Linked DNA regions of Homo sapiens. The protein of the gene in region 1 interacts with the protein of each later gene in a biochemical or structural test. Each region holds a gene or a part of one and is shown in the gene's direction. Other genes may lie near its edges. The genes, in order: COPZ1, TMED10, COPA and COPB1.

What was found.
Region 2: the proteins of COPZ1 (region 1) and TMED10 form a complex in vitro, tested with the Homo sapiens proteins (2 studies listed by BioGRID, with this or other methods).
Region 3: the proteins of COPZ1 (region 1) and COPA form a complex in vitro, tested with the Homo sapiens proteins (one study listed by BioGRID).
Region 4: the proteins of COPZ1 (region 1) and COPB1 form a complex in vitro, tested with the Homo sapiens proteins (one study listed by BioGRID).

What each region holds. Positions count from the first base shown.
Region 1 is NC_000012.12:54,345,621-54,349,345, forward strand, and holds part of COPZ1 (coatomer subunit zeta-1), read left to right. Parts: intron 1-2,146; coding exon 2,147-2,224; intron 2,225-2,379; coding exon 2,380-2,431; intron 2,432-3,725. UniProt on the Homo sapiens protein: The coatomer is a cytosolic protein complex that binds to dilysine motifs and reversibly associates with Golgi non-clathrin-coated vesicles, which further mediate biosynthetic protein transport from the ER, via the Golgi up to the trans Golgi network.
Region 2 is NC_000014.9:75,166,554-75,170,278, reverse strand, and holds part of TMED10 (transmembrane emp24 domain-containing protein 10 precursor), read left to right. Parts: intron 1-3,725. UniProt on the Homo sapiens protein: Cargo receptor involved in protein vesicular trafficking and quality control in the endoplasmic reticulum (ER) and Golgi.
Region 3 is NC_000001.11:160,333,228-160,336,952, reverse strand, and holds part of COPA (coatomer subunit alpha), read left to right. Parts: intron 1-1,630; coding exon 1,631-1,711; intron 1,712-3,273; coding exon 3,274-3,350; intron 3,351-3,725. UniProt on the Homo sapiens protein: The coatomer is a cytosolic protein complex that binds to dilysine motifs and reversibly associates with Golgi non-clathrin-coated vesicles, which further mediate biosynthetic protein transport from the ER, via the Golgi up to the trans Golgi network.
Region 4 is NC_000011.10:14,496,834-14,500,991, reverse strand, and holds the start of COPB1 (coatomer subunit beta), read left to right. Parts: upstream 1-1,180; 5' UTR 1,181-1,285; exon of another isoform or gene 1,286-1,383; intron 1,384-2,006; 5' UTR 2,007-2,063; coding exon 2,064-2,154; intron 2,155-4,158. UniProt on the Homo sapiens protein: The coatomer is a cytosolic protein complex that binds to dilysine motifs and reversibly associates with Golgi non-clathrin-coated vesicles, which further mediate biosynthetic protein transport from the ER, via the Golgi up to the trans Golgi network.

The sequences.
Region 1 (3,725 bases):
TGTAGGGGATTGGCAAAGGCTCCAGGGAGTTGATTTAGTTTTAGAAGTTGGGTTTTGCCGGGCTCAGTGGCTCACGTTCGTAATCCCAGTACTTTGGGAGGCCAAGGCGGGCGGATCATGAGGTCAGGAGATTGAGACCATCCTGGTTAACATGGGGAAACCCTGTCTCCACTAAAAATACAAAAAATTAGCCGGGCATGGTAGCGGGCGCCTGTAGTCCCAGGTGCTTGGGAGGCTGAGGCAGGCGAATGGCATGAACCTGGGAGGCGGAGCTTGCAGTGAGCCGAGATCGCGCCACTGCACTCCAGCCTTGGCGACAGAGTGAGACTCTGTCTCAAAAAAAAAAAAAAAAGTTGGGTTTATTAATTCACAGTAATTCATGCTACTGGGGAGGACTGGATGGAGAGTATGTCCCTCCCATAGAATAATTCTCTTACTAAGTAAGGGGACTGGGAGGGAGCCGAATCTTTACCTCTGTGTTTACTCTTGTAATCCCCTGTGGTCCTGTCAGATCTGAGCATCCTCAAGGTGCTTTCCTGGGCTTCATTCTTGACATTAGAAGTAGGGAAAGGCCAAGCATAAGGAAGTGTCCCAGATGAAATGTCATTCAGTACTTCAGGAATGGAAGCAACACTCCCAATTTTTTTTTCTTTTTTTTTTTTTTTGAGATGGAGTCTCACTCTGTCACCCAGGCTGGAGTGCAGTGGCGTGATCTCGGCTCACTGCAACCTCTGCCTCCCAGGTTCAAGCGATTCTCCTGCCTCAGCCTCCCGAGTAGAGTAGCTGCAATTATAGGCACGTGCCACCACGCCTGGCTAATTTTTGTATTTTTAGTGGAGACAGGGTTTTACCATGTTGGCCAGGCTGGTCTTGAACTCCTGACCTCAAATGATCCACCTACCTTGGCCTCCCAAAGTGCTGGGATTATAGGCATGAGCCACTTAGACCAGTTTTTTTTTGACTTCTAGTCCTTGTTTTTTCCCTTCTGTAGAACAGGAAGCACCCAGGCAGGAGGACTGCATGAGTCGAGTTCAAGACAAGCTTGGGCAACACAGTGAGACCCTGTCTCTGCAAAAAATAAAAAAATTAGCCAGGTGTGGTGGTGCATACCTGTAGTCTCAGCTACTTGGGAGGCTGAGGTAGGAAGATTGCTTGAGCCCAGGAGGTTGAGGCTGCAGTGAGCTGTGATCATGCTACTGCACTCCAGCCTAGGTGACATAGCAAGACCCTGTCTCAAAAAACAAAACAAAACAAAAAACAGGAAGCTTCTGCCATTTACCCTCTCCTCCCTTTCCACCTTCCCACTAGCCCTCTGTTCTCTGTTACCCGTGTAGATGGGTAATAGAAGAGATATAAGTTACTTTTCCTGAAAACATCCAGGGCTCTGAACTTCATTCCCCCAGCAGCTCCCAAGTGAACCCAGTACAGACAGCCATCCAGACCAGAACAGCAGGCACTCTCAGCCCTGCAAAATCAGCAGGGTGAATGGCTCAGATTTCCTCAGGAAGGGGATGATTTATTTCTTATCCAGGTGAATGAATAGTAATTCATTCGGGTAATCTAGTGAAAGACTCAAACTGACAGATGTGACAGGCCACATGCACCAACCAACGGATCTGAGGCTGGTGTATGCAGACCCTGCCCCCTCTTTGGGCTTCTTTTCAGGGCCTGAGCAGAGCTGGTAAGGGATAGGGAGAAGAGGGAACAGAGAATGTCTCAGGAGGTTTGTCAGAGCTTGAGTACAAATAAGGTTTGCATTGAACCCCTCTCACCTCCGGCCACCTCCAGACTGAGTCTTAGCTCTGTTTATATTGTTTTTTTCCACCCACTGATGTCAGTGTTTATGAGCAATGTTATGAGCAGCATCATGGCAGGTAGGAAAGAAATAATAGCGTGGATAATCAACCCCTGAATAGTCAGAAATTGACTGTGTTATTTGAATCTCTTTCCATACATTCCTTATTCAGCAAACGAGTAGAAAGGGGTTTTGAGTGAACTAGCTAAAAAGTTCTTCACCTTATTTACTTCTTTGTGTGGTTGGTGGAGATGTTTATTGGTCTAGTTTAGGTTCCTCAATTGAGACAAGGTCCTAGGATTTCTTTCACATACAAGTTGGTTATTCTCTTCTCTTCTCTTGGGGACTCAGGAAAAATGTAGAAAAGCGAGCACTGCTGGAGAACATGGAGGGGCTGTTCTTGGCTGTGGATGAAATTGTAGATGGAGGGTAAGTTCTCTGACCTGCCTTGATCTTGGGTGAGGTGGCGGGATAACTGCCCCTGTCCTAAGTCAAGCAGGCTCAGTGGCCAGAGGTCCTGTTCCCCGACAGTGAGTTGGGCCTTCGGGACAGAGTGAACAATGATCTCTTCTTTGTTTTTGCAGGGTGATCCTAGAGAGTGATCCCCAGCAGGTGGTACACCGGGTGGCATTAAGGGTAAGCAAGAATGTGTTTCTTTGCATCCCCGCATCTATTCACAAACACCCTCCAGAGCCAGACCTGCTGGATGTGTCCAGTAGTTGGGGCTCATAGGATACATACAACCTTCTCTTTTTCTTTCAAATACATTCAGCCTTTCTCTTCCCTTCTCTTCTTATTGTCCCAAAGAAAGAAGCAGAAATAACTTATTTCTACCCCTAATATGGTGCCTAACATCTCATACAGTCTTTGCACAAAGTGGACATTTAATACATACTTATTTAATAAATGATAAAATAAACTTTAATATTTATGGTTTTGAAATTATAAAGCAACTTGAAGTTGGCTTATTCCCTTCTTGGAGATGGATCCAGTCATCTGAGGCAGAGGAGTGTCTGTTTTGTCTTTTAAAGTGTTACATAGGACTGAGCGTGGTGGCTCACACCTGTAATCCCAGCACTTTGGGAAGCCGAGGCTGGCGGATCACAAGGTCAGGAGTTCGAGACCAGCCTGACCAACATGGTGAAACCCTGTCTCTACTAAAGACACAAAAATTAGCTGGGCATGGTGGTGCGTGCCTGTGATCCCAGCTACTCAGGAGGCTAAGGCAGGAGAATTGCTTGAGCCCGGGAGGTGGAGGTTGCAGTGAGCCGAGATTGCACCACTGCACTCCAGCCTGGGCGACAGAGTGAGACTCTGTCTCAAAAAAAATAAATAAATAAAATAATAATAATAAAGTGTTACATAACTGAGGATGGTACCTCTCCATTAGGAAGTACTTATTTGCCAGAACCTCAGTCCTCTTTGGTGCTGGTGATATCAGAAAGGGGCCTCTGAGTTAACCATAGAAGGCCCCAGGTCAGCTGAGGAGATAATGGTGGATGCAGAGAGAGCCCACCAACAAATTATACGGGTGCAAAGATGTCTGAGCAAAGCAAATCTCCCCATTCACAGAATGTCCTGGCTCTGACCTCCACAGAGTGAAGGCTGACAGTGCTTGGTAATGGGAAATCTCTCTTAACTGCTGTGGGCTCCATTTGCATAGTTTAATCTTCTCCTCTAACATATGTCTCTGTGTGGCAAGAGAGAGGGTCCCCCCCATCAACTCCCCGCTTTGTCTTCTTAGGCTGCTGTTGCAGCAGTTTATTTCTTCAAATTAACATGCTGTCGTTACCCATCAGGCTTTGCGGGATCCATTAAACCACTCCTGGCTCCCCCTCATCCTTTCCCTAGTGATACTGATATTCAGAAAAGGCCTTTTCTGACTAGGGAATCAGGTCCTCCACCCCCACGTTAAGGGAGTTGAGGATCA
Region 2 (3,725 bases), on another chromosome or scaffold:
TCAGTCTTTTTCATGGTGTCCGTTCACTTAGTTCCACTTTTTCTTTTTTTGTTGAGATGGAGTCTCGCTTTCACCCAGGCTGCAGTGCGGTGGTGCAATCTTGGCTCACTGCAGGCTCTGCTCCCCGGGGTTCACACCATTCTCCTGCCTCAGCCTCCCAAGTAGCTGGGACTACAGGCGCCCGCCACCACGCCCGGCTAATTTTTTGTATTTTTTGTATTTTTTGTATTTCACCGTGTTAGCCAGGATGGTCTCAATCCCCTGACCTCATGATCCGCCCGCCTCTGCCTCCCAAAGTGCTGGGATTACAGGCATGAGCCACCACGCCCGGCCGTTCCACTTTTTCTTATATTTTGACGACTGCTTCAAGGATTCTCCCTATGCATCATTTTAGCTTCTGGAGTGCAACTCCTAAGTGCCAGAGCTCCTTTTCATATGGTAGGCCACATTCTAGGTCTCAGTTCAGCCAATGGATTGTCTTGTCTTTGGTCATATTTCCACCCCTGCTTTAGGCAGCTGTGGTTTGATTTGAGGTAGGAGGAGAACTGGAGACTGGTGCAGAACCTGGCCAGCTGAGCTTAGCATTTGGTGGTTGTGCTGAATGAGGCAGTCTTTTTTTTGAGATGGAGTTGCGCTCTTTTTGCCCAGGCTGGAGTGCAATGGCATGATCTCGGCTCACTGCAACCTCTGCCTCCCAGGTTCAAGCAATTCTCCTGCCTCAGCCTCCCAAGTAGCTGGGATTATAGGCGCGTACCACTACTCCCGGCTAATTTTTGTATTTTTAGTAGAGACGGGGTTTCACAATATTGTCCAGGTTGGTCTCAAACTCCTGACCTCAGGTGATCCGCCCGTCTCCCAAAGTGCTGGGATTACAGGCGTGAGCCACTGTGCCTAGCCTGAGGCAGTCTTTCTTATAAGGGTCTCTGTGAATATAGTGCCTTGGTTAATCTGACTGATTCACCTTCTTTCTGTCTAGGAACATCTCAGTATCCAGTGAATGCACCTATGTTATCATATACCACTCTGTGTTGCAGTTGTGTATTTGCCCATCTCCTGGGATAAACTATAAGCTGCTTGAACAGAGACTAGGTTTCATTCATCATTGCAATGCTTGTCTAAAATAAGGCCTGGCACATAGTAGGACCTTATCCTAAGGAATTAGTGAACAGACGAGCAAGCACTGTCTTTGCCTCATCTCTGATCTTTCCCTCTTCCATTCTCTTTATTTGCTTCCTCCCACTCTGACTCTAGCTATACTGAACACCTTACAGTTCTTTGAATATAATGTTCTCTTTACCTGGATCAATGTTTGACTTTCTGTGTCCCCTATGTGTCCCATTGGCTTATAACTTCTTTTTTCCCCCTCACCAAAAGTTGTATGAAAAGATACTGTAGTACCATTACATCCTGTTTTACATGGCACTTTTCATGTAGTGTAGTGTTTACTTTGTGAACTCTTTAATGTCTTACTCATCTTTGTGTCTTTAGTTTAACGTACACATTGTTGTATAACTGAGTTAAACATCTTAGTCTTCTTGAGAAGCCTTGTGGTATGGTAGAGACTAGATCTGAAGTAAGATAGATTTGGTTCAGATCCCAGCAGCTCCACCATTTAAAGGTTATGTGGGTCTTGCAGGGATTACTTAACCCTTCTTCTCTGGTCCTGTTTCTGTAATATGGGAATCGTAGAGCTCATAAACTTGTTAGAAGGACTGATTGAGATGGGTGAGGTTTTTATTGTGCAGGGCCCATTATGGTGCTCCATAGATGTTAGTACTCTTTTCTTTCCTCTGTATTGAATGAAAATTGAATTGCTTCTCAGAGCCCCTCATGCTATATGTCATTGAAATAAGTAGATATGGAGTATTTTAATGAGAGGAATTATGAGTAGTTTGTGATTCTTTCATTCATTCAACAAATATTTATGTAATATTTAGTATGTGTCAGACCTGGCTGAGAATATGGGGATAAACGGGACAAGGTCCTCAAGCTCTTGTGGGGAACAAAGACAAAAAACAAGTTAAAATAATAGAATTTCAGGTAGTGATAAGCACTATAATGAAAGTTCAGGCACTAGGGAGTAGGGGGTGACTGATGGGTTAAAGGGTGTTTGAGTGGTCAGGGGAGGCCTTTCTGAAGCAGAGAGAGATAAATGGATTGAAATGATGGGTGGTCCTCTCCTGCAAAGATTTCTATTTCAGACCTATATTGAGATGCATTTTGTGTTAAGATCTCCAAACTGAGTCTATTCCATACTTCCCTACTCATTTCATAAAGTGAGGCTAAATCAGGCTAACTAGTGTCAGGTATAAAGACTTTGCTGCACATAATTGAAGCAGGAAGTATCAACTCGTCATTTACAGTGAATATAGAAGTTTCCTCCATTACTTCAGGTCCATAATAAAAGCCTGTTGTAGGGACTCAGAAATTTGGGTAATATTTTTATTATTATTTTGCTCTGGCTGGAGTGCAGTGGCATGATCATAGCTCGCTGCAACCTCGAACTCCTGGCCTCAAGTGATCCTCCCACAGCACTGAGATTACAGGCATGAACCCCTGCACCTGGCTGAAAATTTGGATCTTATACCAAGTTATGATTTCTGTCCTTCCCAACTAGCTTATAGATAAGAAAGCCAAACAGATCCCTTAAAGAGTTCAGCCTTGAATCACAGGCCTACCACAACTTAAGCCTAAAAATTATGAAGAAGTAACTTGGCAGTTGGGAAACTATTGGCTTATAACTTCTTTTTTCCCTCACCCAAAGCTGTATGAGAAGATACTATAGGCCAGGCATGAGGACAGAGAGGAGAGGGAGGAGGAAGGAGAAAAGGACAGTGGTGGGGGTGGGGGCGAGGAGGAGAAAAGAGAGAGAGGCAGAGGGGCGAAGAGGCAGGGGAGGGAGGAAGGAAGGAAAAGATGGTATATATGCTATAGTTTTCAGATTATTTTGTTTGGAATTACTGTATTTCAGCTTTTTTATTACTGGTATCTGTACTGAGGTCTGTTCTGTGCTGACAAGGAGAAAGAATAGGATGCTTCGGCTGGGCGTGGTGGCTCACGCCTGTAATCCCAGCACTTTGGGAAGCTGAGGTGGGTGGATCACGAGGTCAGGAGAATGAGACCATCCTGGCCAACATGGTGAAACCCTGTCTCTACTGAAAATACAAAAATTAGCCAGGCGTGGTAGTGTGCACCTGTGGTCCCAGCTACTCAGGAGGCTGAGGCAGGAGAATCGCTTGAACCTGGGAAGTGGAGGTTGCAGTGAGCCGAGATCACGCCACTGCACTCCAGCCTGGGCGACAGAGTGAGACTCCGTCTCAAAAAAAAAAAAAAAAAAAAGGAATAGGATGCATGTTGCTCAGTCATCGAAATGAACCATCCTTTTTATCAATAACGATCCCATGAACCCTTACTTATGCCAGACTTTTTCTGTAGGGAGAAATATGGCCCTTTCAGCGTGAATTTAACGTGACTGTTGTTCACTGGGTTAGAAACAGGTCAATAAATAGATGGTTCAGTACAGAAGGCTAATTGGTACATTGACATTTAATAATATAAATCGAATTTCTTTTTGTATTATATACAAAGTTCCTAGCTTTTAATTATAACTTGACCTTTGCGTCCTTCTCCATAAAAGTTAAAGGATACATTGCTTCATTTAAATCTCTCTTATTCAGTAAACAGTTGTCTACAGCCTTCCCTGTTTTGAACTGATCTAGAGAAGG
Region 3 (3,725 bases), on another chromosome or scaffold:
ACTTACCTAATGTCAGGCACTGTGTTAGGTGGTAAGGGTATAGTGTTGAGCATGATGGACAAGAACCCTGCCTTTAAGGAACTCAGCATTCTTGTTTGGAAGATCATACTTTTGGATTGTCTGGACTTGTTATAGGAAATGAAATTTTTATAATTTACTGAAGAAAAGTTAAAAATTAGAAATAGTAACAAGCTGGCCCAGATTGATTATAAACAAATATTAAAAAGAAATTTAAAAAAATTAAATAAGAAGAAAAATGCATCTGGTCTCTTATTTTTGTACATTTTAGGGGATTTTCTGAATGAGGAAGATAAGCTATTTTATATTTATGATCCTGGTTTTCATGTCTTCAGTTGTGTTCATTGATGCCTAGTACTTTGGTAGTTGACTCAACTTCACATCTGAATATGATATTGTTTCTCTGCTTAGCTCAGGCTTACTGAGCAATGTAGTATTTTCCATGTAATAAGTTAAGGTCTGTTTGCTTGACAGGTGAGTACAGACCACACATGTATGGGCGTTGTTTGCCATCAAGTTAGGAGCCTAAGAAGCTGATGCCCTATATTATTGTTTCCCTTGGAGTCATGGTATCTATCTGTCCTACTTTTTTTTTTTTTTTTGAGACCGAGCCTCTCTCTGTCGCCCAGGCTGGAGTGCAGTGGAGCGATCTCAACTCACTGCAAACGCCGCCTCCCAGGTTCAAGTGATCCTGCTGCCGCAGCCTCCCAAGTAGCTGGGATCACATCCGGCTAATTTTTTTTTGTATTTTTGTAGAGACAGGGTTTCCCCATGTTGGCCAGGCCGGTCCCAAACTCCTGACCTCAGGTGATCCCCCTGCCTTGACCTCCCAAAGTGCTGGGATTACAGGTATGAGCCATCGTGCCCAGCCTGTCATACTTTTTAAAAGTGATGGGTAAAGCACTTAAGGGGTCTATATTCAAGCCAAGAGCACAATTTTGCAGTAGAAAAAAGAGTTGCAAATCAAGCCCTGGATAAATATCTCCTGCTATTAAATGCAGATGGCTTCTTCCCAAAGAAAGAAAAACTTTTTTTTTTTTTTTTTTTTTTTGAGACTGAGTCTCGCTCTGTTACCCAGGCTGGAGTACAATGGCATGATTTCGGCTCACTGCAACCTCTTGTATCCTGAGTTCAAGCGATTCTCCTGCCTCAGCCTCCCGAGTAGCTGGGACTACAGGCACATGCCACCACGCCTGGCTAATTTTTTGTATTTTTAGTAGAGACAGGGTTTCACTATGTTAGCCAGGATGGTCTCGATCTCCTGACCTTGTGATCCACCCGCCTCGACCTCCCAAAGTGCTGGGATTACAGGCATGAGTGACCACGCCCAGCCTGAAAAACTTCAATAATTTTATCTTTAGCTTTTCCCTAATCCTACCCCAACCCCATGTTGTTTATCTGACCTATATTTTCATTCTTGTTCTTTTCCCCTCAAATCTTAAACAAGGCTTTCTACCAAGGTTCCTACCTATTTAGAAATGCCAAAATACAAATAATGTATATAAATCTATATTTATATACATATTTCTATCTCTGTAAAGATATCAATTTCTCTGAGCCTTTTAGAGGCTCAATAACTATTTCTGTTTCTTAGTTTGATTTGTCTTTGCAGGTTTGGAATTACAAGCTTCGGCGCTGTCTTTTCACATTGCTTGGGCACTTAGATTATATTCGCACCACGTTTTTTCATCATGTAAGTAGTCATGGTGGCGCTAGTTTTGGAGCATTCTTAGTTTCCCCATAGTAATCTTTATTTGATCCTTGAGAACCCATGTTTTAATAATAGAGTTGTTTTTGGAGTGGCTCTTCTACAATCTGTGTGGTATTGTCCTTTCTGCTTTTTTTCTTTCTGCAAAAGGAAGCACTTGGGATTATACTGAATTTAATTTTATTGGATTCAGTGGATTCTATGGGAAGTCATTGTTTCTCTGTAGGGAAAAGTAGGGATTTGATTTCAGATTTGCTGAACCAAAAAACAAAAGTTTGCCAGCTAATCCCATGTAGGGTATTATTAGTAAGTAGTAGGTGTGTCTGGAAGAAGGTCAGACTAAGATGCCATTTTGATCAGCTAACAAACGTTTCGAAGTATTAACAATCATACCCCTCTATCCTAGGATTTTTGGGTCTGGTGGAGGCTGTTCCCTTAGCCAGGCTTACTACTTTCTTTGATCTGCCAGGTAACATAGTAGATTTAGATAGTGAGGTGCAGATTACAGACTCCCAACCTCTGAATCCAGTTGCACCCTGACAGGATCTCCTTATAGTTCTGTGTATTAGCATTAACTTACACTATTCTTTGATTGCCAGTAAATTAAGTCTCTTTAATTAAGTTAGAAAGAATATGATGAAATAAACAATTTACTGGTTGAGTATATATTATTTCTTTTTTTAATTAAAAAATTCTAGGATAGGAGAGAATGAGAAAATTACAGCTTAAACATTTGAGAATGATAACCACTCAATAAGATAACTTATTAAGTAGGAATTATTTGTCATTGCCATAAAGGACTTCCTGAAGACCCTTGCCTAGAACAAGTTGCCATCTACCTGGAAAGTTACGAAAGACCTTATTTTCTTTCATTTTACCAGCTCACTAAATATGTGTGTGCCTTATACTTGCTAAGCTTTGTGCTAAATACTGAAGGTAGAGATACTATCTCTATTGAAAATAGAAATACCATCTATTTTCAGTGTTTAACACAAAGCTTAGCAAGTGTAGTAAGAAGGAAGTGTAAATAAGAAATACTTCCTTTTCTCAACAATCTTATAGACTCCAAAAAGGCTAAATTGTCTTTACATGTTACTTTCTGCTTTGCTTGCTGAGACCTGGGAATTTTTTGAAACTGGACAGAAAGAAGTCAGACAATAAAATAATATTCCCATCCTAGAGTTAAAGGTAGAAGAGTCTTTCACAGGATCTTAATTTACATGATTAACTGTATATAAATACACACACACACACACACACATATAGAAGTAAATGTAAATGTATGTTTCACTATCTGCCTCTGAGAATGTATTGTGCCTCTAACTGGCTTCCATTCTTAAGTCTTATAGGTGAAAGTGCCGAAGTTGAGAAAAGCTGTTAGAGTGGTAGAGAAAAGGAGACAGCTAACCTGATAGCAAAAGCAGCAGCCCCTTTGCTAATGTAGCTGAGCCGTTAAGCAATGCAGTTCTTTAGAGAAAAATGATTACAAGAACCTGATAGAACAGATTTGTTTAATGTTTAAAGCCTTTGTCTGGAATATCTTTCAGGAATATCCCTGGATTCTGAGTGCCTCCGATGATCAGACCATCCGAGTGTGGAACTGGCAATCTAGAACCTGTGTTTGGTAAAGCAGGAGGCAGAGGGCTCGAAAAGAGTCTTCATTTTTCCTAGTTTTTCATAATGAGCTTCTCTTAGAACAATCTTCTCCCTTCTCAAATGGACTATGTCGGCTGATTAATTACTGATTGTATTTGTAGGATGCTTTTAAGTGCAAAATAATAAATGTAGAGGCAATCCCATATATGAATCTGGACTTCCAATAATTTCTTACCAGGAAGAGAAGTCATATAGCCTTTTAGAACAAGAACTTTTAGCTGGTTTTCAATTATTTTCCCATAAAACCTGAGTCAAGGTCTAGACCTTTGTCTTATTTTGTGTTTGGAGCTGGAGCTTTACATAGAACTTTCCATGAAGAGTTAGGGACCATTTAAAGTGATGG
Region 4 (4,158 bases), on another chromosome or scaffold:
TAACTATGCAAGATGTTACCATTGGGAGAAACTAGGTAAAGAGTATATGGGATCTCTGTATTCATGTCACTCTACCATTAAGATTAAATATTAAAAAAAATGAATGCACAGAATCAGAGAGGCACTCTTAAAGTGCTGTCAACACATGGCCTTTGAATACAATTTTGGGTGCTCAAAGAATTTGTAGATTGCTTGATGGTTCTAAAAAGAGAAAGCTCAAAAGAGCTAGATCCTACATAAATGAGGTACTATTGGTGTTCCATCTTCCTGAGATGAACCTGTTAACTAGGGCAGTTGCCGTCAGATCTGTTTTTATTCGCAGTATTTTGCTTAAGCTTTAAGATATTTTGTTATTAATAATTGGCCATAAAACCCTTTTGTGGGCAGAGGGAGGTGTAGGGGCGGGGCGTGCTATGGAACTTCAAATGGGCAAAACCGAAAGTACTATGGCTGATTGCAGCTGTAACAGGTCTTTGGAGATACGTAAAATCCTTTAAAACAGTGACTGTCTCCCTTTATGCATAAAAATTTTTTCTAATCTACTGGGTGCTCAGAAAGGATCACGGAAAGAGGCCATTATTAAATAAAAAGCAGAAATTATACCAATGTGACTTTGGATTTTCAAATAACTCCAGCCCTACCTGCAGAGAGGCAGATTCAAACTACTAGCGATGTTAAGAACTGAAATGGATTTTAATCTAGTGATAATTAATAAAATAACTGAATTACCTTCCCAATAGTATTAGTTACTTTCCCAGTTTATTAGGGTGTGGACAAGAAAAAGGATTACTGGGTTTCCACTTTCTAGTCCAGAGCTCTTTTTCACGGGAACAGAGCCCTGTAAAAGTTTCCCTCTCTCCAAGCACTTTCTCCCCTTGACTGTTCCTGAAGAAGGAACGATTTCCAGTTAGCGTTTAAATTAGCATAGTGCTTAACTCAGAGCTTGGCTTGCAGGGAAAACTAGAAAATACGTGGTTTCATTGCTCTGCGGCCTAATCAAACCCTGGACAAGAGAAGAGGAAGAAAATAGGATATACTTGCAGCGCGCAAGCGCTGCACAAAGAAAGCATGTCCTCTCTGAGTCGCCGTAGGTGCTAGGTGGCTGTGGCTTCGGTCGTTACCCCACCCCCTTCCACGTCAGCCAAGGACTCTGGAGCCGCCGCCGCCGCTGCTGCGGTTCATAGCCGGAGTAGACGGAGCCGCAGTAGACGGATCCGCGGCTGCACCAAACCACTGCCCCTCGGAGCCTGGTAGTGGGCCACAAGCCCCCAGTCCCAGAGGCGTGGTGGGTCGGGCAGAGTCGGAAGAACTGGCTTTCTAGCTGGAAGATGCGGAAGGGGAGCGACTAGGCCGCTTGCGTCTGGGCCTGGCAGAAGGGACCGGGTGGGGGTACGGGTGGGGGTGCGGGTCGGGGTGGGGGCGGAGGGCTAGGAAGCTCCGGGTCGGACGCTCCATCCCGTCCTTTGTATTGGCCGGGGGTCTTTTCCCTCCCAAGACCCCTAGGCGTACCCTTTCAGGCCTAGGGCTGCTTTGCTGGAGGAAGGGGAGGAGGAAGCGGGTGGGGCGAGGTGGGGGTGCAGCGCGTTGATTAAGGGACCCGCGGACATAGAGTCGGAACCCACCAAGGACCGCGATAAAGCGCTTTAGGGTTTTGGCAGAGTATTCAGGCACAAGGTCTCTTAACTTGAGCATGCAGATTGTGTGTTGTGTAAAAACCATACGGTCCATAACATTGTGGGGTGTGGCTGGGGGGACTGTCACTGTTCTGTGGGCCTTCATTCGGCTATACAGCATTCTCAAACACTGGACCGGGATGCGATGAGGGAGTGATAGATAATATACCTTATGCCAGAGCTGATAATGTGGTTTTTACTAGAATTTATTTTTATGGGAACACGATATAGATTGACCTGCCCTTTCTAATACTTTAAAAGGTCACTATAGGTACTTGTTTGTGGGTTTTTTTTTTTTAATTTGTAATGATATGTCTGTGTTTATTTTTCTAGATTTTCTGGCATCCTTAAATCTTGTGTCAAGGATTGGTTATAATATAACCAGAAACCATGACGGCGGCTGAGAACGTATGCTACACGTTAATTAACGTGCCAATGGATTCAGAACCACCATCTGAAATTAGCTTAAAAAATGATCTAGGTAAACTTCGATATTATTTTGAGAATGAAATGAAAAAAGAAAAAACAAAAATAAAAAACTCATATTTCATATTCCTTTATAATTAGAAATGCTTAATTTTTGTCTAAAGTTTTTCTAGGATCTCTTCGATAGACCTTTTATTAAAAATGCGAACTTCTTTAAATATTGGTTGTTTGAAATAGAACATCTCAGTTTATCTTAGTAAACCTAAAGAAATTGTAATAGTTTAGATATTCCTCAAAATGTCATAATTTTTGTAGACTTCAATATATTAATGTGGCTGATTATTTTCTCTAGGCAACAGGTTGAGGATGTGTATTGGAATATCTTAATTCCATCGTGCACTTAACTTCATGTTACTTAGCTTGTAAAACCAAAAGAACTTTGTTCTTTGGATTACCCACCCAAACAATTAGGTGAACACTGGAATAAACATGTATTTTCCAGAAAAGTTTACCTTTTCATTTTTTATGCATTTTTGCAAATAAGAAAACAACTATATTTCTGAACTTTTTGTAATGTTTAATTTTTGGGGGTACACAGTAGATGTATATATTTATGGGGTACATGAAATGCTTTGATACAGGCATGCAATACATAATTATCACATGGAAAAATGGAGTATCCATCCCTTCAAGCATTTGTCTTCTGTGTGACAATCCAGTTACACTTTCAGTTATTTTTAAATGTCCAATTAAATTATTATTGACTGTAGTTACCCTGTGTGCTATCAAATATCGGGTCTAACTCATTTTTTCTGTACCCATTAACCATCTCCACTTCCCTACCACTACCCTTCCCACCTCTGATAACCATCCTTTTACTCTGTCTCCGTGAGTTTGTTTTGATTTTTAGCTTCCACAAATAAGTGAGAACATGTGAAGTTTGTCTTTCTATGCCTGACTTATTTCATGTAACATAATGACCTCCAGTTCCATCCATATTTTTGCAAATGACAAGATCTCATTCTTTTTTTATGGCTGAATAGTACTCCATTGTGTATATGTACCACATTTTCTTTATACATTTATCTGTTGGTGGACACTTAGGTTGCTTTCAAGTTTTGACTGTTGTAAACAGTGCTGCAACAAACATAGGAGTCCAGATATCTCTTTGATGTACTCATTTCCTTTCTTTTGGATATATACCCAGTAGTCGGATTGCTGAATCGTATGGTACCCCTGTTTTTAGTTTTTTGAGGACCCTCCAAACTGTTCTCCATAGTGGGTATACTAGTTTACATTCCCACCAACAGTGTACGAGGGTTCCCTTTTCTCCACATCCTCTCCAGCATTTGTTTTTGCTTGTCTTTTGGATAAAAGCCATTTTAACTGGGGTGAGATGATATCTCATTGTAGTTTTGATATGCATTTCTCTGATGATCAGTGATGTTGAGCACCTTTTCATATGCCTGTTTGCCAATTGTATGTCTTTGTGAAATGTCTGTTCAAATCTTTTGCCCATTTTTAAATCAGATTATGAGTTTTTTTTTTTCCTGTAGAGTTGTTTGAGCTCCTTACATATCTGGTTATTAATCCCTTGTGAGATAGGTAGTTAGCACATATTTTCTCCCATTCTGTGGGTTGTCTCATCACGTATGTCGATTGTTTCCTTTGCTGTGCGGAAGCTTTTTAACTTGATGTGATCCCATTTGTCCGTTTTTGCTTTGGTTGCCTGTGCCTGTGGGGTATTATTCAAGAAATTTTTGGCCAGACCAGCGTCCTGGAGATTTTTCCCAATATTTTCTTGTAGTAGTTTCATAGTTTAAAGTCTTAGATTTAAGCCTTTAATCCATTTTGATTTTATTTTTGTGTAAGTTGAGAGATGGGGGACAAGTTTCATTCTTCTGCACATAGTTTTCCAAGCACCATTTATTGAAGGGACTGTCTTTTCTCCAATGTATGTTCTTGGCACCTTTGTCAAAATGAGTTCACTGTAGGTGTATGGATTTGTTTCTTGGTTCTGTTATTTTCCATGGGTCTTTATGTCTGTTTTTATGCCAGT